7 linked regions of the Homo sapiens genome follow. The protein of the gene in region 7 interacts with the protein of the main gene of each other region in a biochemical or structural test. Each region holds a gene or a part of one and is shown on either strand. Other genes may lie near its edges.

Region 1 (3,500 bases), on a different chromosome or scaffold from region 7:
AGCATATTAAAAGGTCCCCAAGCCCAGCCTTTCAGATTCGGGAAAGCCTTTCTGTAGGAAGTTCCATCTCAGGTGAGACCTGAAGTATGAAGTGCATTTAAGACAGAGGGACAGAGTGTGCACAGACCCTTCCCTCCGCAAAAAAAAGCACTGCCAGTTGGGAGAACCAACTGGAACAAAGTGTGTGTGGGGAAAGAATGGGTAAGATGCATTAGCAAGGAACCAGGGACTGGATCAAACCACTTTAAGAGTTTGGATTCCTTCGCTGGGCGCGGTGGCTCACGCCTGTAATTCCAACACTTTGGGAGGCCGAGGCGGATGCATCACGAGGTCAGGAGATCAAGACCATCCTGGCTAACATGGTGAAACCCCGTCTCCACTGAAAGTACAACAAATTAGCTGGGTGTGGAGGTGGGCACCTGTAGTCCCAGCTACTCAGGAGGCTGAGACAGGAGAATGGAGTGAACCCGGGAGGTGGAGCTTGCAGTGAGCCGAGACACGCCACTGCACTCCAGCCTGTGCGACAGAGCGAGACTCCATCTTAAAAAAAAAAAAAAAAAAAAAAAAGAGTTTGGATTCCTTCCTGAAGGCTATGGGGAACCACAGAATGTGGCCAAAAAAATGGCACCTTAAAGAACCTAAAGTTTTAACAGCTTAAGTTAAACAAACTGTTATGGCTTACAGTCTTTAGCAACTTTCCAGCTACGACAGTTTATGCTGCACTTCAGTTTACTTAGATACTCCAATATAACTGTGCAAGCACTGAACCTGCAGCCAAATGAACATTCTCTCAAGACAATCACAAAGAGGAGAATCTGAAATGAACAGAGCAATTTTCTTCTGAATCTCATTTATGTCTGTAGGAACCTAGGCTTGCCATGACCTCATTATGTTTTTGTAAGCCTATTGCATAAGAAATGCCACTGGAAGTCAGACCACCACGCATTATTCTGACTGACACCAGGGAGCAATGAATGGGAGAGTGCAATTGTCCCCTGTGATGATAACCTCAAAAGGTCACAGACCTTTTCCAAACATCCATAGCTTCCTTCTGATATCCCAGAAAGCCAAACCCTCTATGGAAACAAAATGTGACTAGACGTAGTATGCAAAAACTACATTTTAAAAAGAAAAATCTCAATGACTGTAGGCAATTGCCTCCAGATAATGGCATGTTCCTAAAGATGCCATGTTCTAGAATTCAGCAGGAACAAGCAAGGTATCCACGGGAAAGAAAAACAAACCTTTCGCATCCTCTACTTTTCTAGGCGATTGCTTACATAAACAAAATTATAAGATGCTTATGAATATCTAAAGCATGTTTACACACATCCTCTGAAATACCTAAAGGAAGCATCTGTACACAATCAATTACTCTGTAATATGCACATATAATTTTGTTTCAATCCATGAAGAAACTTAGGTTGAACAGAGCCTCAGACAGGAGTGCTGATGAAGGGTTGAGGAAGTCATGGGTCCTCATCTAACAGAGTCCTTCTCTATCAATTCCTGACCCCAGGGTCTGTCAGGTCTTAAGGTTACCAATCTTGAAATGCAACTTGGTAGCACTGGTCCTACTTAAAGTGACCTCTGCATGCAATTGGCAAGTCATCCCTTGTCTGTGACTCAACTGTTCTCTGTAAAGTGGGTCTAATATTTATCCCTTCACAGAAATCTGAAGGAAAAACAGAACAAAACACCAGCCTGCTCTCAAACCTCAAGAAATAAAGATATTGGCTCTATTTTGAAATGAACTAAAATGTATTATCCATTCAACACCTTGGTTATATTTTTTAATGGCATATTTTCAGTTATTTGAAGGATGCTAAAGAAAGCAACACTCAACTCTGAATAATGTAGAACTGATTATTTTATTTTATGAGATGGAGTCTTGCTCTGTCACCCATGCTGGAGTGCAGTGCTGTAATCATAGCTCACTGCAGCCTCCAACTCCTGGGCTCAAGTGATCCTCCCACTTCAGCATCCCAAGTAGCTGGGACTACAGGTGCAAGCCATCATGCCTGGCTAATTTATTATTATTATTATTATTTAGAAATGGGGTCTTGCTATGTTGCCCAGGCTGGTCTCAAACTCCTGGCCTCAAGCAATCCTCCCACTCACACCTCAGCCTCCCAAAGTGCTGGGATCATAGGCACGAGCCACTGTGCCCAGCCACGACTGTTATTTTTAAACCCAGAATGCTGCTGATCATTAAAATAGCTACAAAAAGTGAAAATCAGCTGGCATGGAAGTGGTTAATTTTGGGACACCTGGTAACTTTCCACTTGTTAGAAACCTAATAAGTTTCTTGGTGTAAGTATACTCTTCTTAGCTTTGATGTCTAGATAATGCAGTTTTACTAGTTCCTCAATTGGACTGAATTACACGGTAAACAAAGACTGTTATAAATCTAAAAACATCTCAAACACTTGGTTTAGAGGAAATAACTTTAAGTGCTTGGTCACAAATACATTCAACTTAGTTCTAAGAGGTGGGTAAAAAAAATTAGCTGAGTCACTAAATTTAATGATCTGAAGGCCACAAAGAAAGAGAAAGTAGGAGACCGGGCATATCCAGACTTCACAATGTCTTTAGAGTTTAAATGTGATGGGAACCAGTGTTCTTAGCAGGCAACTAAGATACACAACAGAATCTGAATGTCCATTCTAATAATTTTCCAGTGCTAATCCTTTTTAAATGGAAGAGTTAAAACAGAGGGGAAAGAAGGATCCTTTAAAAATGGTAATTACTTTTATCTTTGAGCTGTACAGAGATATTTCATTAGAAAAACAGAAACACAGGACTTCAAAGTTTCCCATTTTATGCCAAGAGTCAACTACTTCAGAGAGGAAAATACTTCAGAAGTATTTTGGTTTCTCAGTCACAAATACATGCTGTAATAAAACATAATGCAAATATCTACGTGCCTTCTTCAGACTGTCACCAAGCATCTAGAGTTGTTTGTGATTTGTTTAACCAAGACACAAGGTCCCCACCAGAGTGCCGCAACTGGAAGGTAGAAGGAGGGTGTTTTCTTTTTTAACACCTCTATGAAACACTCAGGGCAAGAAGTGGTAACATTCCCAAGATAGCACACATTTTTGTAGGACCTAGAAATGCCACCGTGATCCCAGATTTACTATGACTGGGAAAGTTCATACTGTCAACAGCTCTATCAGCATACGCCTGGAAGTGTGTGTATCACTCTTCCAACACAGCGTGTGTATCACTCTTCCAACACAGCAACCTCATCCCTCTCTCCCCGAAGTAGGAAATGTTTGTGTGCTCTGTAATCTAGAATGCCCCCTAAGACAAAAATCTTCCACCATTATCCATAATAAAAATGACCATCTCCACCTGAGAATATTCAACAACTTCTGAAAACACACTGAGTTTCAAATAATCACATACAGAACACCACCAACTAGTAACACTGTAAGGAAATAATTTCATACAGAACTACAAGCAAAGGAAGTAAAATACTTGTTATCACAATTTTC
Region 2 (3,500 bases), 7.4 Mb from region 7:
CTTTCAGTTAACATGCCTTGATAACACATAGATGTGCAGAAAGTTTTAACATTGATCTTTTAACTTACGTTTCTCAATGACTGCCTTGATCAAGATACTTGATGAGAGTTTCATGACTTAAATAGCTTTAGTTCAGGAGTCAATTTTAGCACCAAGGCTGAAATATCCCAAAGGTATCCGAAAGGCAAGTAATGTTCTAAGATGAATAATTTAGAAAATATGCCTTAATATTTCAAGAGAGATCATTCATCTTATATTTTTGACTTTCATTTTATTATGAGCCATCGTAGATGTTTTAACTTCTTTAGCCCACAAAGAAATTTCTCCAAAGAGAGCCAGCCAACCGGAGACAGACAGAGACAAAGAAGGTATAATGAGTAGAGAGTGCCTCAGTGTCTCTTAAACTTCCTGAGTCTGTGGACTGCTTTGATATGGGGGTAAATGGAGCAGTTAGGCCACACTCCAGAATTTGTAGGATAACTCCTCTGCTTTTGATGAGACAGCAGTACAGGACTACATGGTTTCCTTAAGCATCATATGCAAATTGTCAGTTTATGCCAGAAGCAAAATTGTAGGAATTTGCCTTGTTAGTAACTTTTTGCTGAAATAAACATTTGTCACGTTTATTAGAAAATTGGTTTGATCTGGGAGCAGCTTTGCAGTCATTTTCTGTACATACCCAAAGGAAGTGTGACCATGCTGGCCCATTGCTATCTGGATGCTTCAGACATCAAATGAGGACTTGGATCTTGAAGAGCAGCCTAAAATTAAACAACTGGCCCGTTGTTGCCAGACTTCGTGAGAAATGGCCCTTATTTATCAGGCCTGACAAGCTGTTAAATGTTTTTCCTCTTTTAACTGCAGATGTGTCCGTCTGAGTGGGAACAGTAAACCTAGGGGTACATATGTTTGAGTTCTTGTATTTTTAACAGAACAAAATAAACATCTTAGTGGACTTTGGATGAGAAGAGTCCCATTCGACCCATGAAAAATTGATTTATTTTCTCCGCAAAGGAAAAAAGGGGGGTGGGGGGGAACCCTTTTAAACAAGTGAGCCTTCCAAGTGGGACAGCCCTGGCCAGTCCTTTTGACCTTAGAATGAATCAATTACTTTTACTTTGAAGACCTTAAACAGAGTGGTTGCTTTTTTTCAGGGAACTACCCCGGTTACTGAGAATCAGTGTCCCCGCTCCCTAATGGGTCAGCCTGTTTGAGTAAGCCTTCCCTAGCATAAAGAAACAACTTCCCAAGTGACTTATCTCTATGCCAACGTTTTTTCAATGATGAAATACTTTATAAGCTCTCCAAGGCAGAAAGTTCTCATGTTAATTTGTTGTCTCACTAAATTTTAATTCCCAGGAAAGAGCCAGAGTACATGGAAGCAAAAAAAAAAAAAAAAATAGATTTTTTCACAATATTAGGGGGATAAAAGAACTTCTTTAAAAAGTGAGTTTCCCTTATAAATTCTTGATAGTCTATTTAATAAAGAGATGGTGAATAGTTCAGAACTCTGAGGGTAAAGGGGAAGCAAGAACAAGCTTCAGACTCTCGTTTTGTCTCCAGCTGAGCAAGTAGCTTTGGTTCTCTAAACGACAGTTTCTTCAATAAAAATATTCTAGGGCCCAAGCACAGTGGCTCACGTCTGTAATCCCAGCACTTTGGGAGCCTGAGGCGGGTGGATCTCTTGAGCCCAGGAGTTGGAGACCAGCCTGGGCAACATGGCGAAACCCTGTCTCTACAAAAAAAATATTAGCTGGCATGGTGGTGCATGCCTGTAGCCCTAGCTATTTGAGAGGCTGAGGAGGGAGAATTGTTTGAGCCTGGGAAGAAGAGGCTGCAGTAAGCCATGATCATGCCACTGCTCTCCACCTGAGCAACAAAGGGAGACCCTATCTCGAAAACAAAGAACTTCTTGGGACAAGTAATAATAGCTAGTACTTACTGATTCTATATCAGAAGCCAAGCTCCATGCTACACATTTTGTATGCTTTACCTCATTAAGGGAGAGGGGGACATTAGTATATACATTTTGTAGGTGGAGACACTGAGGCTTGGAAGAGTCACTGACAGCTGTGTGAGTTAGGCTTTGAACCTGATTCTCCCTATTACTGAGTCTGTCCTTTTTTCCGAGACAGTCTCTCTCTGTCGCCAAGGCTGGAGTGCAGTGATGTGATCTCAGTTCATTGCAACCTTTGGCTTCTGGGTTCAAGCGATTCTTGTGACTCAGCCTCCCAAGAAGCTGGGATTACAGGCATGCACCACTATGCCCGGCTAATTTTTATATATTTTAGTAAAGACGGGATTTTGCCACGTTGCCCAGGCTGGGCTCAAACTCCTGACCTCAAGTGCCTCCCAAAGTAATATGATTACAGGCGTGAACCACCGCACCCGGCCTAGTCTCTTTAACTGCATTTTCACCTCTCATTCTGAATAAGGGAGTGTCTGTATTTGAGAACCAGATCTTGTACATTATTCACCCTGTGTAGTTAAAGATCACTTGGGGCCTCTCCTAGCCGGTGACTGAACCAGATAGCCTTTCAGGTCATGCCCAGGAAATGAGCACCCTGTCAGGTGAGAGCACAGGACCAGAGCCCCATTTGGTTGCCATGGTAGCAGGGCAGCAGGATCACAGGGAGCAGTGGCCCATTGGACAGTGAGCAGCAGTGTGGTCGAGGTTCCTCACTAGTTTACATCCAATGGTTACTGCTGATTTGTTTCTTCCTAATGAAAACATTGGGCATTTCCAGATCTTTTTAAAAGGTGAGGAAGTGGAAATTAAATGAAGAGGGCCTGAGGCCCTTTTTAATTAACTCTGAAAGTCTAAATTACAAGCCACAGTACCACGTTTGGGTTCTCTCTCTCTCTCTCTCTCTCTCTCTCTCTCTGTGTGTGTGTGCGCGCATGTATAAGTACCAATTATCATTACTTTCAAATAATAATAGCTAGTACTTACACAAATATAAGGTTGAGGGAAAAAATGTCTGCAACTCTTTAACACAAGTAGAGATTTTTAATAACATGTAAGGAAGGTAGACATTTCAAAGGAATGTTAAGCTCAATAGTAAGCTTGTAAAATATTACTTTCCTGGTATCCTTTTTATGGTTTCAGTCACTGAGGAAATAATTTCAATAAGAGGTGTAAAAGCTGCAGCAGAGTATTTAAAGTTTCAGATGCTGCCATACTTTATTTATTTTTATGTATTTATTTATTTTTTTTTTTGAGACAGAGTCTCACTCTGTTGCCAAGGCTGGAGAGCAGTGGCATGATCTCGGCTCACTGCAACCTCTGCCTCCCGGGTTCAAGAGAGTCTCCTGCCTCAGCCTCCTGAGTAGCTGGGATTACAGGTGTGTGCCACCATGCCTGGCTAATTTTTGTATTTTTAGTAGAGATGGGGTTTCACCATGCTGGCCAGGCTGGTCTTAAACTCCTGACCTCGTGATCCGCCTGCCCCGGCTTCCCAATGTGCTGGGATTACAGGCACGAGCCACTGCGCCTGGCC
Region 3 (3,500 bases), on a different chromosome or scaffold from region 7:
GGGACATGGTAGAGCTAAGATTCAAACCCAAGTAGCGGAATTCTGCACTTTTAGCAATCACATTATAACAGACTGCTCTGGCATTGGGCAGGGGCGTCTCTTAGTACTATTGGGGGAGGGTGTCTCCAGCACTCAGAGGGCCCCCGGCTGCGGCAGGAGCTGTACCTTGGCAGGGATGGAGGCAGGGTGGTTCTCAAAGAAGAGGCGCTGGAGACAGTGAATCCACAGCCTCTTCTCTTCTTGGTTCTTGGCCTAGGAGTGGGTTGGAGTAGAGTCAGGGGGCCAGGTGTGAGGTCTCGAGGCTGGGGGATCCCTGCCAGCCTGATCCCACTACATGCTCACCTGGAGCAGGTGTCTGTGCTTGGGAATGGTCAGATCAGACACCTTGAACCCTAGAGGGTCTCGGGGACTCTCGCTCACGCTCAGGTTGCAGCACTGGAAGGAAAGAGAGGGGTAGCAAGCTCAGAGTCCTTGGGCTCAGTGATGCCCCTTGTACGGAGACACCCTTGGAGGTGTATCTGGGTCCTCCTCCCTAGGAAGATGCATCCCATAAGGCTGTATGGTGGGTTTCCTCTCCCTTTTTTTTTTTTGAGACAGAGTCTTGCTCTGTCACCCAGGCTGGAGTGCAGTGGCATGATCTTGGCTTATTGCAACCTCCGCCTCCTGGGTTCAAGTAATTCTCCTGCCTCAGCCTCCCCAGTAGCTGGGATTACAGGCACTTGCCACCACGTCCAGCTAATTTTTGTATTTTTAGTAGAGACGGGGTTTCACCACGTTGGCTAGGCTGGTCTCGAACTCCTGACCTCAAGTGATCCGCCCGCCTTGACCTCCCAAAGTGCTCGGATTACAGGAATGAGCCACCACGCCCAGCCTTCTCCTTTTTTTTCTTAAGTGGGGCAGCTCTCATTCTATACACTAGAAAGAAAGCTTCCCTTGGCTTCCATTCTCTAACTCAAGAAAATGTGGCAGGGTCCCCTGGCCCACACTGCCGGGCACACAGATACAGGTATATGGGATATACTTTGTAGGTAGTATTCTAGCCCCACCCCATCCCCAAACTCACGAAGATGTGGCCTTTGTAGGTGTACTCCAGCCCCCTGCGCTTGGCCACCAGCAGCATCCGAGAGAACAGGAAGAGCAGCCGCTCACCCCCTCGTAGCCGGGGGCCACCCCCTCCGCCTCCTCGGAACGCGCCCTCCAACACCAGTTCCCCAAAAGCACTGAGCTCTGGTCCGGTCCAGCCACCCAGCCGCCGCTGCACTTCCTGCCGGGACCCCGCCAGGTGCGCCGGGGCGCAGAGACAAGCATGGGTAGGTGGCACACACATACACACCAAAACAGGGGGTTAGCAACAGGGCCATGCTGTCCCAGCCAACCCTCCAAGGCTACCTCTGAGGCACTGATTTCCCCCCACCCGCCCCAAGGCCCCCTCGCTCACTCCCTCATCCAGCAAGCCCCAGCCCACCCTGGGGCCACCTGGAGGCGCGCTGCATGCTCCTGCTTGCGCTTCATGTCGTTGATGTACCAGGCAACCGCTGTCATGGACACAATAGCTTCCTCCACCATCTCGCGACCCCCAGTGCCTGGGCCCTCCGCCCAGTGCTTCCCTAGTTCCTGTCAGGCAGCCACCAGGCACGCAGGGATGGGGAGAGAAACAGAGAAGGAGAAAGAGAATGAGAATAACAGGAGATGGAGAAATATAAAGATAGGGGCAGAGGCCAGGCGCAGTGGCTCATGTCTGTAATCCCAGCACTTTGGGAGGCTGAGGTGGGCAAATCACCTGAGGCCAGGAGTTCGAGACTAGCCCGGCCAACGTAGTGAAACCCCGTCCCTATTAAAAATACAAAAATTAGCTGGGCATGGTGGTGTGCGCCTGTAATCCTAGCTACTCAGGAGGCTGAGCAAGGAGAATCACTTGAACCCAGGAGGTGGAGGTTGCAGTGAGCCAAGATCGCACCACTGTACTCCAGCCTCATCGACAAGAGTGAAACTCCACCTCAAAGGGAAAAAAAAAAGCTAGGGCTGTGCGCGGTGGCTCACGCCTGTAATCCCAGCACTTTGGGAGGCCTTGCCCAACTCGTGGGGGGTCCATCCTCCAGATGAACCAACAGGTGGTCAAGGGACAGGACCTCCCCCTCCCCAGCCTGGCTCCAGGGGCCCCAGCTGACCTGCAGCAGCAGATGGTACTTGAGAATGCGCTGGACAGGTTTCAGCAGGAAGCTCTGCAGGGGCAGCGAGTGGCGAAGCTGGGCCTGGCGCTCCTGCAGCCACAGGGCTGCTGGCGGAGACAACGACAGCTCCCGGAGCAGGGCCAGGGAGCTGGGGGCACAGCACAGGTCAGTGGGGATTGTCAGTTCCAGTGGGCGGGGTCAAGAGGGGTTAGGGAGGGGCCAGGGTTTGGGAAGGGTCAGGGTCTGACAGGGGGCGGGGCAGTGAGGGAGAGGTCAGTTACTGTCACAGCCTGGCAGGGGTCGGTGCTGGATGGGTCGGGGGTAGAGGGAGGGTGACGGGTGACTGGCACATCAGCTTGTGGGCACAGCCTGAGGCCCAGCAGGGGCTCCTGCCCCTCACCTCGGGTAGTTCATGCAGTACAATGTGTAGATGTCAAAATCCTCGCTCTGCGGGTGACATGGGAGTCAGGGAGACCCCAGGTCCTGGCTTCCCACGACCCCCCTTCCAGCCTAGCCCAAGCCTGCTCTCCCCCCTCTACAAAGGCCCCATCCAGGACCGAGAGCCCCCCACCCCTCCACTCACCCTCTGCACGAAGCACTCGGCAATACCCCCGGCGCTGCTGCTGTTCTCCAAGTCCTCCAGGAGCTCGCTACAGGGGAGAGGGGAGGGTGAGGAACCGCCTGCCTTCACGACCCCTCCATGGGAGGCCTCCAGGAGGCTGAGGCCCCAATGGTCTGCTGGGGCTGGGGGCTTGCTGACTGCCAGCATCTCCTAAGGGGATGTCATGTCCGGAGGAAGGGTCCTCTGAGGGCTACACGGGGCATGGTAACCTGCTTAGACTTTGTCCCTGGACAGCTTCTCATTCCTCAGCTTGAACTTGTGTCAGTGCTGGCATGAGCCTAGGGGTGTTATATCATGACCCAAAGAGCTAGGATGATCTTAAGTTCCTGCTGTAATCCCGAGACCTCGTCAAGGTACTTGGAAATGTCATGATCCTTGGACCCCAGAGTCCTCCTTACCACAGTGACCAACCATCCTGGTTTGTCCGGGACTGAGCAGTTTCCTAGGACGAGGGCTTTCAGTGCTAAAACTGGAAAAGTCCCAGGCAAATCAGGCTTAGGGGGTCACTCGCATGCTCACGCTGTCTCGGCCTTCAGGCCCCATATGATTCTTGGATTCATCGTGAGCCCAGACCTGACACAGCCCCAAGGACTCGTCCTGATGCCGGGACCCTGTCCCAGTGTTTGGGCTTCATCCAGGTCCTCTGACTCCCATCCGCTATGCCCCTCCCTCACTCGGGGTCCTCCCATCCGCTATGCCCCTCCCTC
Region 4 (3,500 bases), on a different chromosome or scaffold from region 7:
ATGAGATAGTTCCCATTTGAGGTTGGAGTCTGCCATTACCTTGATGCTGGCTTTTCCCCAGGAAAGGAGTAGCTCCTAGATGACTATAGCTTAACTGTACCTGCTCCCTTTTCTTCCTAAAGTGTCTCGGTAGTTTATTCCAGTAACACAAAGAGATCAGGATCAAATGAGACAAAGTGGGCTTTACGGTTGTGGGTTGCTTTTTCTTATTTTTTTCCAACTCCATCACTGACTCATTGTGACTTTGGGCAAGTCATTTACCTACCCTCTGCCAATTATTCACAGTTACACAATGAAAATACTTCATTCTCAAAACATTCGTAAGACTGTCTGCCTTGCAGACTTTTTGGAAGTATAAGAGATTATAGTGCCTTGGGATTTTTTGTTACTTTCCTAGCATTCACCAGCAGTTTGTCCCATAGTCAGGTGCCTGTTTCAATGAGAGAATGTAGTATGCAGAATGCTAAGGTTTCTTCCTGAATTTCCTCATATTTTAAGAAAGTGCCACAGGTTGTTTTTCTTCTATATGGTCACCTTGAACTATTAATAGGACTTAAGATTTTAGACCTTAGTGGAGGATGCTGTGTTTACTGCTTCTCAAGGATAGCATGTTTTCAGTATGAGGATTATCTTTGGCCAGACTAAGGTGGAATCAAAGGTAGGAGAGAGGCAGTAGCTTCTGATTTGAATATTGCCTTTCCCTATGTTTGAAGCCCTAAAACTGCTAACTGTGTACAACTGTGAATTTCAAAAGTCTCCCCAGATGATAGAATTAACTCTTAATTTAACAAGATGTCCTTTGTGTTGAGACTGAGCTAGACTAATAGACCGGGTATGTATTTTTAAGCTCTACAGCATTACTTGACTAAACCTCTCTTTTGGTTTGTATATTAAAATTATGCCATAGGCAACCTCATCTCGCATTTAAAACCTCTCATAAATTAGAAAACTTTGAATGGTTCTCCAAAGATAATACTGGGTGTTGTACAAAATAGCAGCACAAGCCTTCTTTTCCTAGAAATGGGTACAGATTCATTGCAACCACATGGCTTGGGAAAGTTCAAGCTGCTACCCAACCAGCCTTAATTTGTGAGTTACAAATTTAATAGTACTTGATTCATAGAGGGAACAAAAAATAGACCCATAGTATTATCATCTTTCAATAGGTTCAAGGAGTAGTTCCAGTTCCAGAGAGGCCACCTGAACCTCGAGCCATGGATGACCCTGCGTCTGCCTTCATCAGTGACAGTGGTGCTGCTGCTGCTCAGTGTCCCATGGCTACAGCTGTCCAGCCAGGCCTGCCTGAGAAAGTGCGGGACGGTGCCCGGGTCCCGCTGCTGCACCTGCGCGCCGAGTCTGTCCCTGCGCATCCCTGTGGCTTTCCTGCACCACTGCCCCCCACCAGGATGATGGAGAGTAAGATGATTGCTGCCATACACTCCAGCAGTGCAGATGCCACCAGCAGTTCAAATTATCATTCCTTTGTCACTGCTTCATCCACCTCTGTGGACGATGCATTGCCTTTACCACTTCCTGTCCCACAACCTAAGCATGCTTCTCAGAAAACAGTTTACTCCTCCTTTGCTAGGCCCGATGTCACCACTGAACCCTTTGGTCCAGATAACTGTTTGCATTTCAATATGACTCCAAACTGCCAGTACCGTCCCCAGAGTGTACCTCCCCATCACAATAAATTGGAGCAGCACCAAGTGTATGGTGCCAGGTCAGAGCCACCAGCCTCCATGGGTCTTCGTTATAACACATATGTGGCCCCAGGAAGAAACGCATCTGGACACCACTCCAAGCCATGCAGCCGGGTCGAGTATGTGTCTTCTTTGAGCTCCTCTGTCAGGAATACCTGTTACCCCGAAGACATTCCACCGTACCCTACCATCCGGAGAGTGCAGTCTCTCCATGCTCCGCCGTCTTCCATGATTCGCTCTGTTCCCATTTCACGGACAGAAGTTCCCCCAGATGATGAGCCAGCCTACTGCCCAAGACCTCTGTACCAATATAAGCCATATCAGTCCTCCCAGGCCCGCTCAGATTATCATGTCACTCAGCTTCAGCCTTACTTTGAGAATGGCCGGGTCCACTACAGGTATAGCCCATATTCCAGTTCTTCTAGTTCCTATTACAGTCCAGATGGGGCCCTGTGTGATGTGGATGCCTATGGCACAGTCCAGTTGAGACCCCTTCACCGCCTTCCCAATCGAGACTTTGCTTTCTACAATCCTAGGCTGCAAGGAAAGAGCTTGTACAGTTATGCTGGTTTGGCTCCACGTCCCCGGGCCAACGTGACTGGCTATTTCTCTCCCAACGACCATAATGTAGTCAGCATGCCTCCGGCTGCTGATGTGAAGCACACCTACACCTCATGGGATCTTGAGGACATGGAAAAATACCGCATGCAGTCCATCCGGAGAGAGAGCCGTGCTCGGCAGAAGGTGAAAGGGCCTGTCATGTCCCAATATGATAACATGACCCCGGCGGTGCAGGACGACTTGGGTGGGATCTATGTCATCCATCTGCGTAGTAAATCAGATCCTGGGAAAACTGGACTTCTCTCAGTGGCAGAAGGAAAGGAGAGCCGCCATGCAGCCAAGGCCATCAGTCCCGAGGGAGAGGACCGCTTCTATAGGAGGCATCCCGAGGCAGAGATGGACAGAGCCCACCATCACGGAGGCCATGGTAGCACGCAGCCGGAGAAGCCATCCCTGCCTCAGAAGCAGAGCAGCCTGAGGAGCAGGAAGCTTCCTGACATGGGCTGCAGTCTTCCTGAGCACAGGGCACACCAAGAAGCAAGCCATAGGCAGTTCTGTGAGTCAAAGAATGGGCCCCCTTATCCCCAGGGAGCTGGCCAGTTAGATTATGGGTCCAAAGGGATTCCAGACACTTCTGAGCCAGTCAGCTACCACAACTCTGGAGTAAAATATGCTGCATCCGGGCAAGAATCTTTAAGACTGAACCACAAAGAGGTAAGGCTCTCCAAAGAGATGGAGCGACCCTGGGTTAGGCAGCCTTCTGCCCCAGAGAAACACTCCAGAGACTGCTACAAGGAGGAAGAACACCTCACTCAGTCAATCGTCCCACCCCCTAAACCAGAGAGGAGTCATAGCCTCAAACTCCATCATACCCAGAACGTGGAGAGGGACCCCAGTGTGCTGTACCAGTACCAACCACACGGCAAGCGCCAGAGCAGTGTGACTGTTGTGTCCCAGTATGATAACCTGGAAGATTACCACTCCCTGCCTCAGCACCAGCGAGGAGTCTTTGGAGGGGGCGGCATGGGGACGTATGTGCCCCCTGGCTTTCCCCATCCACAGAGCAGGACCTATGCTACAGCGTTGGGTCAAGGGGCCTTCCTGCCCGCAGAGTTGTCCTTGCAGCATCCTGAAACACAGATCCATGCAGAATGAGCCCTGCGAGCAATAGAGTTGAAGCAGCCTCTGCTGGACAGTGGACTGTTCTATTTTTTTCAATAACCAAAAAGATTAAAC
Region 5 (4,058 bases), on a different chromosome or scaffold from region 7:
CACTTGAGCTCAGGAGTTCGAGACCAGCCTGGCTAACATGGTGAAACCCCCATCTCTACAAAAGATAGCCAGGTGTGGTGGTTCATGCCTGTAGTCATAGCTACTTGGGAGGCTAAGATGAGAGGATCGCCTGAGCCCAGGAGGCAGAGGTTGCAGTGAGCCAAAATTGTGCCACTGCCCTCCAGCCTGGGCGACAGAGTGAGACCTTGTCTTAAAATAAAATAGGCTAGGCACGGTGGCTCTCGCCTGTAATCCCAGCACTTTGGGAGACCAAGGCGGGCGGATCACGAAGTCAAGAGATCGACACCATCCTGGCCAACATAGTGAAACCCTGTCTCTACTAAAAATACCAAAATTAGCTGGGCGTGGTGGCACGAGCCTGTAGTCCCAGCTACTCGGGAGGCTGAGGCAGGAGAATCGCTTGAATCCGGGAGGCGGAGGTTGCAGTGAGCTGAGATCGCGCCACTGCACTCCAGCCTGGTAACAGAAGTGAGACTTCGTCTCAAAAATAAATAAATAAATAAATAAAACAAAATAAAACAGAGAGCATTGCTTCAGAGCATGGGGAGCCCCCACCCTACCCTTCAGAAACTAAAATCTGAACCAAAGCTCTGAGACACATCATGTCTTCTTATGGATGCCTGGAAAAGTCACGGGTATGTGGTCACTATGGCCTAGGCAGGAGTGCAAGTTGGATACGGCTGCTCCACAGAGGCTTGGGGGTTGGAGATGATGGAGGCGAGGAGTGTCGCCTGTTTAGGAGGAGGGGTTTGGGGGAGTCCCACAAAGGCTGGAGAATTATAGGTGAAGCTGTCAGAGAATAGATGGATCTATAGGCAACTGACAAGGCCTGGGGGGTCCAGCAGAGGGAACACTGCGTGCATGGGGCGCTGGGGGGTTAGGGCTGGTTTAGAAGGTCCATGGGTTGGGGGGCCACATGGGTGTTGAGTTCTATGGAGGTCTCAGGGTCTATAATGTGTTGAGCAGGTGACTCAGGGTCTCCAAGAACTTCTGGAGCCTTAAAGAACCTAAAAGAGTCGTTGGAATGTGTAACTCCCCAGATTCTATTTGACACACAGTGGGTCTAAAGGATCCAGGGATCATACAGGATCATGATTCTATAGGGACAGCTGCCAGTCTGTGGAACCTCTGGAGACTTAAAAGGGACTCAGAATTCCATAGGGGTGCGTGGTGGGTCCCGAGACCCATGGTCTATAGAGCCCCGGATTCTAGGGGATGCCACTGGTCTATGAGGACCCCACGTCTATAAGAAGCCAGTTCTCCATGGGGGGCTGGCAGGAACCTGGAGGGTCTGTAAGACTTTATACGGAATGAGGCGGGTCTACACGAGACCCAAATCTTACATGGACGTGGCGGGTCTTACGCGGGCCCTAAATCCTACGGGGGACGTGGCAGTGTGCACGGCCAGGGATGCCGGGGAGGACGTGCAGAGTCAGGGTCTGACACCCGCTGGGGACCGCGTCCCTCACCTGCTCCAGGTGGAAAGAGAAGCCATCGCCGCCACCGGAACCGAAGCCTCCGCGCTCGGGCTCCGCACTCTCCCCACCCCTGCCGCCGCGTCGCTCTAGCCGCCCTGAGTCCACCTTTGCGCCCAGCTCCACTCCTCCTGCCAGCCGCTCTAGCCCGGCTCCTGCCGGGCTCCGGCCCCGACGACTCTACTCCTCCCGCCGGCCGCTCTAGCGCTGTACTGCGCCACGCAGGCCAGATAGGGCCGCTCTGGCCTGTCTTGGAGGGCCAGCGTTTCCGTATCTCGACTGCCCCCGTCACTCCCCGGGCCCCGCCCCGCGCCCGGAGGTGCAGATGGGTCCAACTCCTCCCGAGTTCGATCGGAGATCTCCTAGTCACCCCAGCGCTGAGCACTCGGACGGCGGACTGGGGCTCCCCGTCCTATTAGTCTCCCCACTTAGGGGACCCGCTGAATTTCCAATCCTCGTACATCAATCCCCTCCGTCTCCCACCCCCAGCCCCTTCCTTTGGAACCGGAAAAGCAATAGTCTTGAGTTCCAGCACAACTTTCCCTCTGACATGCAGTGTAATCTGCAAAAAGTAATGACTTCTCTGTAGACCTCAGTCTTCCCATCCGTACAATGGGAGAAGGCCTCCAGCTCTCTCCCTACACCTGTCTCTCACGGTATAATTAATGACCTAGAAAAGAGCTTTCCGAAAACTCTTTCAAATGCACTCTGCAACTTTCAGCTTCACAGCGACCCTCGTCGTTGTTGTTATTGTTGTTTTTCATTTTTAGGTGGCCCTAAAGCATGCGGGGGTTGGAGGATGGCGCTTTGCGGAAAGCACGTGCGAGTTCAAATCCCAACTCCACACTTTCTCACGATGTGCGTTCCCTGGGACGAGTCGGTTTGGCTCCCCGGGCCTCGGTTTCCCCACCCGTACAATGGTAGTGATCGTCCGTTCTCCACTGAGCAGGTGGGAGGCCTTGGCCCCGGCCTCGCACCGTTCGTCCCCACCTATGGGGCACTCGTCAAGTGTGAGTTCTCCCCTCTTTGCTCCCTTTGACAGATGGGAAAACTGAGGCCCAAGGAGGGGCGGCCGCTGGTTCCGTGGGGTCCGAAGGGGGCCCCTCCGCTGCCGGCAGCGCCCCAGCCCCTCCCTCCTCCTCCCCACTTCCCCCAACAGCCGAGGGGAGGAGGCCGGGCGGGGCCGGGGACCGAGTACCTGGTGTCCGCGCGGAGGTGACCGGCGGGGCGCCCGAGGTCGGGCTCGGCGATCCCGGGCCCTGGGTCCCGGCTCCCGCTTCCTGGCTCTGGCGGGGCAGGAAGTCGGGGCGTTTTTCCGGAGGCCCCCGCCCCGCCGCCCCTCCCCGCTTCCTGCCCGCGCCCCGCGCCCGCCCGGCACCTCCGCTTCCTTCCCCTTCTCGCCGCTTGCCCGCCCCTCCTTTCCCCGCTGCGCCCGGGTCCCTGCGGGCACCGGCCCCCGCCCCGGCCGCGCCCGAGCTCTCCCCGGCTTTGTCCATCGGTCCGTCCGCCGGGCGCGGGCTCCGCGGGACTCGCATCTCCCGGCTGGGGTCACCTCCCCGGAGGTGCTGGGGGGCAAGCCCTGCTCCCCGTGCGCCCTAGACCGAGCCACGACCTCCCCGGCTTTCCGCGTCTGTGGTTCTCATGGTCTTGCGCCCTTCCTTCGCCTCTGTGGGTGTGCTCCCGCCTGCGTCTGCATCCCCTTCTCTGTCCCTCTGTCTTTCTCTACTGGGGTCTTTCCCTCCTTGGCCTCCACCTCTCCTCTCTGTCCCTCCATCACTTTCTCCCCGAAAGCCCTTCTCTACCCTCTCCAGCTCTCTCTGTATCTTTCTGCATCTCCGTCTCAGTCTCTGTCATTTCCCCAGCTGTTGCTGTGCCTGGGCCTCTTCGTGCCCATTTTCGGTTGCCCCTTCTCCCTTCTGTCTCTTCCTTTCCTTCTCGCTCTCTCTCTGTCCCTTTCTCTCCACGTCCCTGTCTCTCTCCCGGATTCCCAGGGTCTCATCATCTCTTCCTTCCCTTGCTCGTCCCCTTCATGATCCCTGGGTCTCAGCCTCTCTCCTCTCCCTTTCTCAGGAAATCCGTGTCTCTGTGCCTCTCTGTCATTGCCCCGGGATCTCCCTGCTATCCCCAGGTTAGGACCACAGACCCTCCAAAATGCCCCTTCTGTAAGTCAACGCATCGGGAAAAGGCTGCAGTCTGAATTCTGTACTAGCCCCAATCCACAAGATAGTCCCTGTGTTTCCAAGGCTTAAATACGCATAAAGTGGCTCATGCCTGTAATCCCAGCACTTTGGGAGGCCGAAGCATGGTGGATCACTTGAGGTCAGGAGTTCGAGACCAGCCCGGCCAACATGGCGAAACCCTGTCTCTACTAAAACAAAAATTAGCTGGGTGTGGTAGCACATGCCTGTCATCCCAGCTACTCGGGAGCCTGAGGTACAAGAATCGCTTGAGGTGGAGGTTGAAGTGGGCTGAGATTGCGCCACTGCACTCCAGCCTGGGCGACAGAGTCAGACTCTGCCTCAAAAAAAAAAAAAAAAAAAAAAAAAGCGGCCGGGCGTGGTG
Region 6 (3,500 bases), on a different chromosome or scaffold from region 7:
CACTTGTGAGTTGGGTAAAAGAGTTTGTAGCTTAGATATCTCTTCCCATAGATAAGTATAAATAGTAGAAATTAGTCTATTGTAATTGTATGATACTTTGGCTGTGCTACGAATCAATTGACTTTGGGATGCTTGTGAATTAACCAACTTGGTCTCATTTGAAAATATCTTAAGCCGTGAGCATTGAGATGGTAGGGATAGCTACTGGGGCATAGAAGAGAGATGGAGGAGGCTGAGAGGACAGGGCAAGTATCTGGGTGGAGACTTTGTGAAGGCAGATAAAATTCCGTAGGAATTAAACTTGGAACCTGCCCTAGGCCACACTCAATACCTGGACCTGAGTCCTATATCCTTTGTAGAACAGAACAGTTGTCCTACAGATTGTGGAAAGCCTTTCAGTAATACCTGTTTCTCATTACTCTTGGCAACACACAGGTAGTGGTGGCAGAGCAGGACATGTGGCTTCTAGAAGTGTCCATCTCTAGGATGTAGGTCAGTCCATTCAAAGGGAGCCTGTAAATTGGTGGTCCAAGTTGATGAAGGAGTTCTTTTTAATTAGGAGAGTCCTCTAAAAGTTCTCACAGACTTCAGTGTAAATCGTCTAATCGTTTCCATCAAATAGATTGTTAATTATTGATTGATTATGTCATTGTAGTACCTTCAGTGTTGGTTTTGAGATTTTTCTTTTCTTTTTTTTCTTTTTTTGAGACGGAGTCTTGCTCTGTCGCCCAGGCTGGAGTGCAGAGGCGTGATCTCGGCTCACTGCAAGCTCCGCCTCTCGGGTTCATGCCATTCTCCTGCCTCAGCCTCCCGAGTAGTTGGGACTACAGGTGCCCACCGCAACGCCCGGCTAATTTTTTGTATTTTTAGTGGAGACGGGGTTAACCGTGTTAACCAGGATGGTCTCGAACTCCTGACCTCGTGATCCGCCCACCTCGGCCTCCCAAAGTGCTGGGATTACAGGCGTGAGCCACCGCGCCTGGCCGGTTTTGAGATTTTTTCACCTTGTCCTTTAATTTCTGTATATTTACCATGTTTGGGCATTGATGGTAATACTAGTTAACCTTTCTGAGTGAGCCAAGCACTGTTCTAGGTGCGTTGTAATTATCAACTCCTTTAATTCTTAGAACAACCTTGTGAGGTAGGTAGTATTATTAATCTTGTTTGCCATAGGAGGAAACCAAGGTACACAGAGATTAAGCTGCCTAAAATCACACAGCTGCCAGTTCATGAGGCTGAGATTTGAATCTAGGCAAGCTGGCTTCAGAGTATACATTCTTTCTTTCTTTCTTTTTTTTTTTTTGTGAGACAAAGTCTCATTCTGTTGCCCAGACAGGAGTGCAGTGGCACAATCTTGGCTCACTGCAACCTCTACCTCCTGGGCTCAAGCAGTTCTCCTGCCTCAGCCTTCTAGTAACTGGGATTACAGGCACGTGTCACTACGCCCGGCTAATTTTGTATTTTTAGTAGAGATGAGGCTTCACCATGTTGGCCAGGCAGGTCTTGAACTCCTGACCTCAAGTGATCCACCCGCTTCGGCCTCCCAAAGTGCTGGGATTACAGGCGTGAGCCATCGCACCTGGCCTAGAATACACATTCTTAATCACTGTCCTGAATTCTCTCCCATAGCTGTTGGGAACTTTAATCTTTACTGCTTCTTTTCTCATCCAGGAACCATTAGCAATAATTAGTGATGCCTTTAATTAATATATAATATGAATATAGAATTGATTTTCTGATTATAGGCAGGCTGCGAGGTGAGAAGATATACAAGGTTGGAGAATTTTTGTTGATTGTACACGTAGTAGGAATTTGAGTACAGATGAAATCCCAGTAAGCTTAATGAGATTAGTGCATGTTTGCCAATTACTTTGGGTTATTTGGAAGCAGGTGTAGTAGGCCGAACAATGATCTTCTGAAAGGTAGACACTCCTTAATCCCTGGAACCTGTGAATGTTACCTTATATGGCAAAAAATGACTTTACAGGTTATTTGGTTTTTTTTTTTTTTTTTTTTTTTTTTAAGAGGGGCCAGGCAGGAGCAACAATTAAACCCAATGTATGACTGTGCTGTGGTGTAACTTCTGACAGCAGGATGTCTGAAAGAGATACTGCTCTTTGCTCTTCCAGCCCCTGAGAGACAGGGTATCTCATAGCCTCCAACCTCCTGCTGGGAGGATGAGGAACCATCCTTCAGTGCTTGCCTGCCTGAGTTTGGGCTGCCACTCTAGAACTCCCTGCTCAGCTTCCCAGCCAGTCCAGATTGTGGAATGTGGCTGCTTCTCCCCTTTTAGCTGGGGCAACCACAGGTGGTTCAAGCAACCTCTGCCTGGGCCTGTTGAACTCCACCAGGAGGAGGCAGCCCCAAAGTTCCACACATCTGGACATCTGGGGCCTTGGACAGTGATATGGTCAGCACATGGAGATTGAATCTATGTCTGAGGTGGATACACATTAACTAAGCTCACAAGCTTAATGAATAAGCTGTAACCCAACTCATTAATGTATACCAGCCAGTGTGTTGCAGCCAAATCCTTCCAGGCATGCAGGCCCCAGAACAAAGAGGATTAACAAAGAGCAGATGAAAACAATTCTAGCCAGTAAGCTAAAGGAGAAATCTGCTGGGGAATTCTGAGAAAGATGTCTTTGCTCTGTAAAAAGGAACTAACAAAAACTTTGCATCCAGTATTGGCTGAGATCTCATTGGACCACAGACCTCTCACATGACAAAATTATAAAAAGCAACTATTAAAACACTGGAGAGTGATCAAAAGACATGGCTATTGGAGACAATACTTGGAAGAAGGGACTAGCACTGGATAAGTTTGTCATTTTTTGTAGCTTTTTGCATAAGGGAAGCCCCTAATCAGGGTCATGTGGGGTGGTTAAAACTAGAATATAAGCCCACAGTTGTACTGGCATAAAAAACCAGAGGGCAGAGTTCTGGTGACCATATAGCTGATAAATGAGGAGAAAATCCTGGAGAGGAGAAGGAGCCACAAATGGGTAGCCCCAAATTCTGTGTGTAGAGTCCTCAAATTTCTGAACCCTACATGTATGGGACAGACTCCAAGCAGCACAGGTAGGGCTAACATATCTGAACTAAGATTTCAGGTCCCATCCAGCGGATGGGACAGTATGTGCAGTTTGAGAGTTCAGCCAAGTTAACTGCCTGCTAAAACAAACACAAAAAGCAATACTTCTCAGAAGAATAGAAGGAATTCAGAGTCCCTACACCATACATTCACAATGTTCAGGATACAGTGCAAAGGTATTTGACATTAGGAAAAAACAGGAAAATGTGACCCATACAAACAAGAAAAAGGAATCAATGGAGACCAGTCTCAAGATAACTCAGTTGTAAGCATTAATAGACAAGGATTTTAAAGCAGTTGTATAACCATATTTAAGAATATAAATGAAATATGCTCACAATGAATGAAATGATAGGAAACCTCTGTAGAGAAACAGAAACTATAAAAAGACCACAGTGGAAATTCT
Region 7 (3,500 bases):
GTCCTAAAAGCCCTCTGGCAAGACTGGAACAAAGCTCTTGTGAAATTGGAGGGTTTTTTTGGGTTTTAATTTTGGTTTTGGTTTGTTTTTGTTTTTTTTTTTAATCTTCTGCTTCCTTTTGTTGTCTAAGTAATGCTTTGCTTGGCCTCTCATACTTTTTTTTTTTTCTCTTAAATAAAGAGACAGGGATTGTACTTTGTCTCCCAGGCCTGCAGTGCTGTGACATGATCATGCAGCCTTGAACTCTTGGGCTCAAGTGATCCTTCCACCTCAGCCTCCCAAATAGCTGGCACTGTAGGTATGTGCCACCACACCTGGGTAATTTATGTTTTTAGAGATGAGGTCTTGTGTTGGTCCAGCTGGTTTCAAACAACTGGGCTCAAGTTCTTCCATCTCAGCCCCAAGTGGCTGGGCTTACAGGCGCAAGCCAGCGTGCCCAGCTCTCCTATACATCTTTTGAAGTGGGTCAGCTGAAAGGAAAAAACCCCTAAAACTAGAATGAGGTGCTCTTCTCCAACATTCTCATTTTTCTTGAGCATTCAGTTATATGTCTCATATGCTGCTAACACTTGATATATTAGCTTCCATTCATCCCCTTTCTCCTTTCTTACTTTGTTTTTGTTTGTTTGTCTAGAGACAGAGTCTCCCTCTATCACCCAGGTTGGAGTGCAATGGCATGATCTTGGTTTACAACAACCTCCGCCTCCTGAGTTCAAGCAATTCTCCTATCTCAGCCTCCCGAGGAGCTGGGATTACAGGTGCCTGCCACCAAGCCCAGCTAATCTTTGTATTTTTAGTAGAGACGAGGTTTCGCCATGTTGGCCAGGCTGGTCTCGAACTTTTGACGTCAGGTGATCCGCCCGCCTTGGCCTCCCAAAGTGCTGGGATTACATGCATGAGCCACCGTGCCTGGCCACTTCTACTTGTCCACATTACTTATTTCTTTCTGTCCTAGGGCCACCTAGCCTCCTTTTGTGGCACTGTGTGAGGAATGTGGGTTAGATCAGCTGCTCAGAACTCCAGGGTCCCTCATTGTAGGGCTTCCTGATAGTTGTTTGACCATCAGTAAGCTCCTGACCTTTGAGCCTTCCTCATTTGTAAAACGGTTTTTATAGGTGACATCAAGGTTCTGTGAAGTAACGGAAAATGTTTGGCAGCACCAAAGCGCTTTCTAAGAGATGAATACTGCCATGTTCAAAACCCTCTTTCATAGTTTGTAGTCCTTTTTTTTTTTTTTTTTTTTGAGACAGAGTCTCGCTCTGTCGCCCAGGCTGGAGTGCAGTGGCGTGATCTCTGCTAACTGCAACCTCTGCCTCCTGGGTTCACGCCATTCTCCTGCCTCATCCTCCGGAGTAGCCGGGACTACAGGCGCCCGCCACCACGCCTGGCTAGTTTTTTGTATTTTTAGTAGAGACAGGGTTTCACCGTGTTAGCCAGGATGGTCTGGATCTCCTGACCTCGTGATCTGCCTGCCTCCCAAAGTGCTGGGATTACAGGCGTGAGCCACTGCGCCCGTCCTATAGTTTGTGCTCTTTTTTATTCAAATACAGAGTGAGCCACGATGATTGCTCTTATGCTAATAGGAACTCTAAGATACTTTCTGGCCCAAGTATAGATGGAAAAAATACAACAAATACCAGCCTAACAGAATTTTGGGATGTACCCTGAAGGTGGCAAACCAATACAGAGGGTGTTAATTCAGCCTCAGCCAAGCATGGATGCTTGGACATAGGTGTTTTTGTGGTCCTGATAGGAAAACTGGTTTTATATGGACACAGGGCCCAGTTGTGACAAACTAGGTAGAAATGTGATGACATCTTCAGGATTGGTGTCAAGTTATAGCCCTCTTACCTAACTTAGATTGATGCACCATACATAGAAAGATCCATTGGCTTGGGGAAGCAATGTCAGGTTGGCATTTTCATAGCTTATTTCTCAAAAGCCTAGTAGTGAATGTATATTACTGGTTGTATCCTAACATTTTCTCCAGAGAGTGGCTGTTAATTGCTGCATGTCTGTAAGCATGAACTGGAAGGGTCTTTTCCATCTGTGGCAGTATGTATGTTTTGGAAGCAGCTCTTTGGTTCTCTTGGAAACATTATTTCTGCCTGGGCATCTTGGAACAACCAGAATCTTGCCCATAAGAAATTTAGAGACCTTGACTTAAAACCTTGAGGCATGGTCTGTGAGTATTTTTCTTGTGCTGCAAACCTTGGACATCACTGACCCTCGCAAGATAGGGGGAGGTTCTCACTTGAGGAGAGTCCCCTGGAATAAAAGTGTTTGATTGAAGAGCATATTACAGGCTACCTGCCTGCCTCAGAGCAACTCAAGAGTCCCCAAGATGGGAGAGGGTACTGTGTAGGAATATTCATTTAACAGTATGCAATAGTATAAGGCCAGACGTCGTAGCTCACACCTGTAATCCAGCACTTTGGGAGGCTGAGGCAGGAGGATCACCAGAGGTCAGGAGTTTGAGACCAGCCTGCCCAACATGGCAAAACCCAATCTCTACTAAAAATACAAAAAATTAGCTGGGCGTGGTGGCAGGCACTTGTAATCCCAGCTACTTGGGAGGCTGAGGCAGGAGAATCACTTGAACCTGGGAGGCAGAGGTTGCAGTGAACTGAGACTGCGCCACTGCACTCAAGCCTGGGCGACAAGGGCGAAACTCTGTCTCAAAAAAAAAAAAAAACAGTAGGCAATAGTACAGCCTAGGGAACCATACAAGATTGTAGGTGATCATGGTACCAAGAGTAGGCCTGCTCACAATGAAAAGGCCCCTTTTGATATGAGACAGACTCAACATCTTGGAAGCATTTTATCAAGCGCCAATAGAGGCTGGATATATGACTAAACACCGTGGGGTGGAGGGGGCCGGGAGAGTGGGATTTGCCAGGGAGTAAATGAGCTCCATTATTGTGAGGGCAGACAGATTGTGATAATTGGGCATCAGTATATCTTAGTTACACATGCCAGAATGATGGTTTGCATGACAGAAGTACAGTGGGCCTTGTGGAGGTTATTTGTGATGCATCCTGGGGCAAAAGTTCGGGGGTGGAAGAGCCATCAATTTTAAGGAAGAAATCATTTAGAAACTGAAATTTGGGCTGTGAAGGTGCTAAGAGAAGAAAGATGTGTTCCAAGTATTGGAGGGAGACCTCTTGGGCCTCAAAGGGCCTCTGTACAGAGGATGTTTAACATGGAGTCTGGTGATAAGAATGGGGTAGCAGAGCTGGGTGCAGTGCTGGGCAGTGTTGAATGGGACTTGTATTCAGAGCCCAGGCATCAGTTTACCCTTCTACCACAGGAGGGTGAGGATGTACCCGGATGTGAAAGGAGTACTCTCTCACCTTACGTGATGCATTATTTCAGACATTTCTTGAGTAGTAAAGGCACAGCCAAAAGGGCTTTCCTGTCATCTCAGGCCTTGCCTAACAGCCAGCATGGTGTCTTTTCCTACCTACCAACTCAAAATACAGATTTGTTTCCATGGTTTC

Evidence for each region.
Region 1: the proteins of RHOA (region 7) and ARHGAP35 form a complex in vitro, tested with the Homo sapiens proteins (3 studies listed by BioGRID).
Region 2: the proteins of RHOA (region 7) and ARHGEF3 form a complex in vitro, tested with the Homo sapiens proteins (one study listed by BioGRID).
Region 3: the proteins of RHOA (region 7) and PLEKHG2 form a complex in vitro, tested with the Homo sapiens proteins (one study listed by BioGRID).
Region 4: of the proteins of RHOA (region 7) and ARHGAP32, one has a biochemical effect on the other in vitro, tested with the Homo sapiens proteins (3 studies listed by BioGRID).
Region 5: of the proteins of RHOA (region 7) and ARHGEF1, one has a biochemical effect on the other in vitro, tested with the Homo sapiens proteins (one study listed by BioGRID).
Region 6: the proteins of RHOA (region 7) and DIAPH3 form a complex in vitro, tested with the Homo sapiens proteins (one study listed by BioGRID).

What each region holds. Positions count from the first base shown.
Region 1 is NC_000019.10:46,912,997-46,916,496, reverse strand, and holds part of ARHGAP35 (rho GTPase-activating protein 35), read right to left. Parts: intron 1-3,500.
Region 2 is NC_000003.12:56,746,450-56,749,949, reverse strand, and holds part of ARHGEF3 (rho guanine nucleotide exchange factor 3), read left to right. Parts: intron 1-3,500. UniProt on the Homo sapiens protein: Acts as a guanine nucleotide exchange factor (GEF) for RhoA and RhoB GTPases.
Region 3 is NC_000019.10:39,415,669-39,419,168, reverse strand, and holds part of PLEKHG2 (pleckstrin homology domain-containing family G member 2), read right to left. Parts: intron 2,822-3,500; coding exon 2,755-2,821; intron 2,619-2,754; coding exon 2,572-2,618; intron 2,320-2,571; coding exon 2,169-2,319; intron 1,615-2,168; coding exon 1,477-1,614; intron 1,265-1,476; coding exon 1,064-1,264; intron 436-1,063; coding exon 343-435; intron 253-342; coding exon 166-252; intron 1-165. UniProt on the Homo sapiens protein: May be a transforming oncogene with exchange activity for CDC42. May be a guanine-nucleotide exchange factor (GEF) for RAC1 and CDC42. Activated by the binding to subunits beta and gamma of the heterotrimeric guanine nucleotide-binding protein (G protein).
Region 4 is NC_000011.10:128,968,826-128,972,325, reverse strand, and holds part of ARHGAP32 (rho GTPase-activating protein 32), read left to right. Parts: intron 1-1,166; coding exon 1,167-3,419; 3' UTR 3,420-3,500. UniProt on the Homo sapiens protein: GTPase-activating protein (GAP) promoting GTP hydrolysis on RHOA, CDC42 and RAC1 small GTPases. May be involved in the differentiation of neuronal cells during the formation of neurite extensions.
Region 5 is NC_000019.10:41,881,926-41,885,983, reverse strand, and holds the start of ARHGEF1 (rho guanine nucleotide exchange factor 1), read right to left. Parts: upstream 2,801-4,058; 5' UTR 2,695-2,800; exon of another isoform or gene 1,517-2,694; coding exon of another isoform or gene 1,491-1,516; intron 1-1,490. UniProt on the Homo sapiens protein: Seems to play a role in the regulation of RhoA GTPase by guanine nucleotide-binding alpha-12 (GNA12) and alpha-13 (GNA13) subunits. Acts as a GTPase-activating protein (GAP) for GNA12 and GNA13, and as guanine nucleotide exchange factor (GEF) for RhoA GTPase.
Region 6 is NC_000013.11:60,157,429-60,160,928, reverse strand, and holds part of DIAPH3 (protein diaphanous homolog 3), read left to right. Parts: intron 1-3,500. UniProt on the Homo sapiens protein: Actin nucleation and elongation factor required for the assembly of F-actin structures, such as actin cables and stress fibers. Required for cytokinesis, stress fiber formation and transcriptional activation of the serum response factor.
Region 7 is NC_000003.12:49,370,477-49,373,976, reverse strand, and holds part of RHOA (transforming protein RhoA isoform 1 precursor), read left to right. Parts: intron 1-3,500. UniProt on the Homo sapiens protein: Small GTPase which cycles between an active GTP-bound and an inactive GDP-bound state.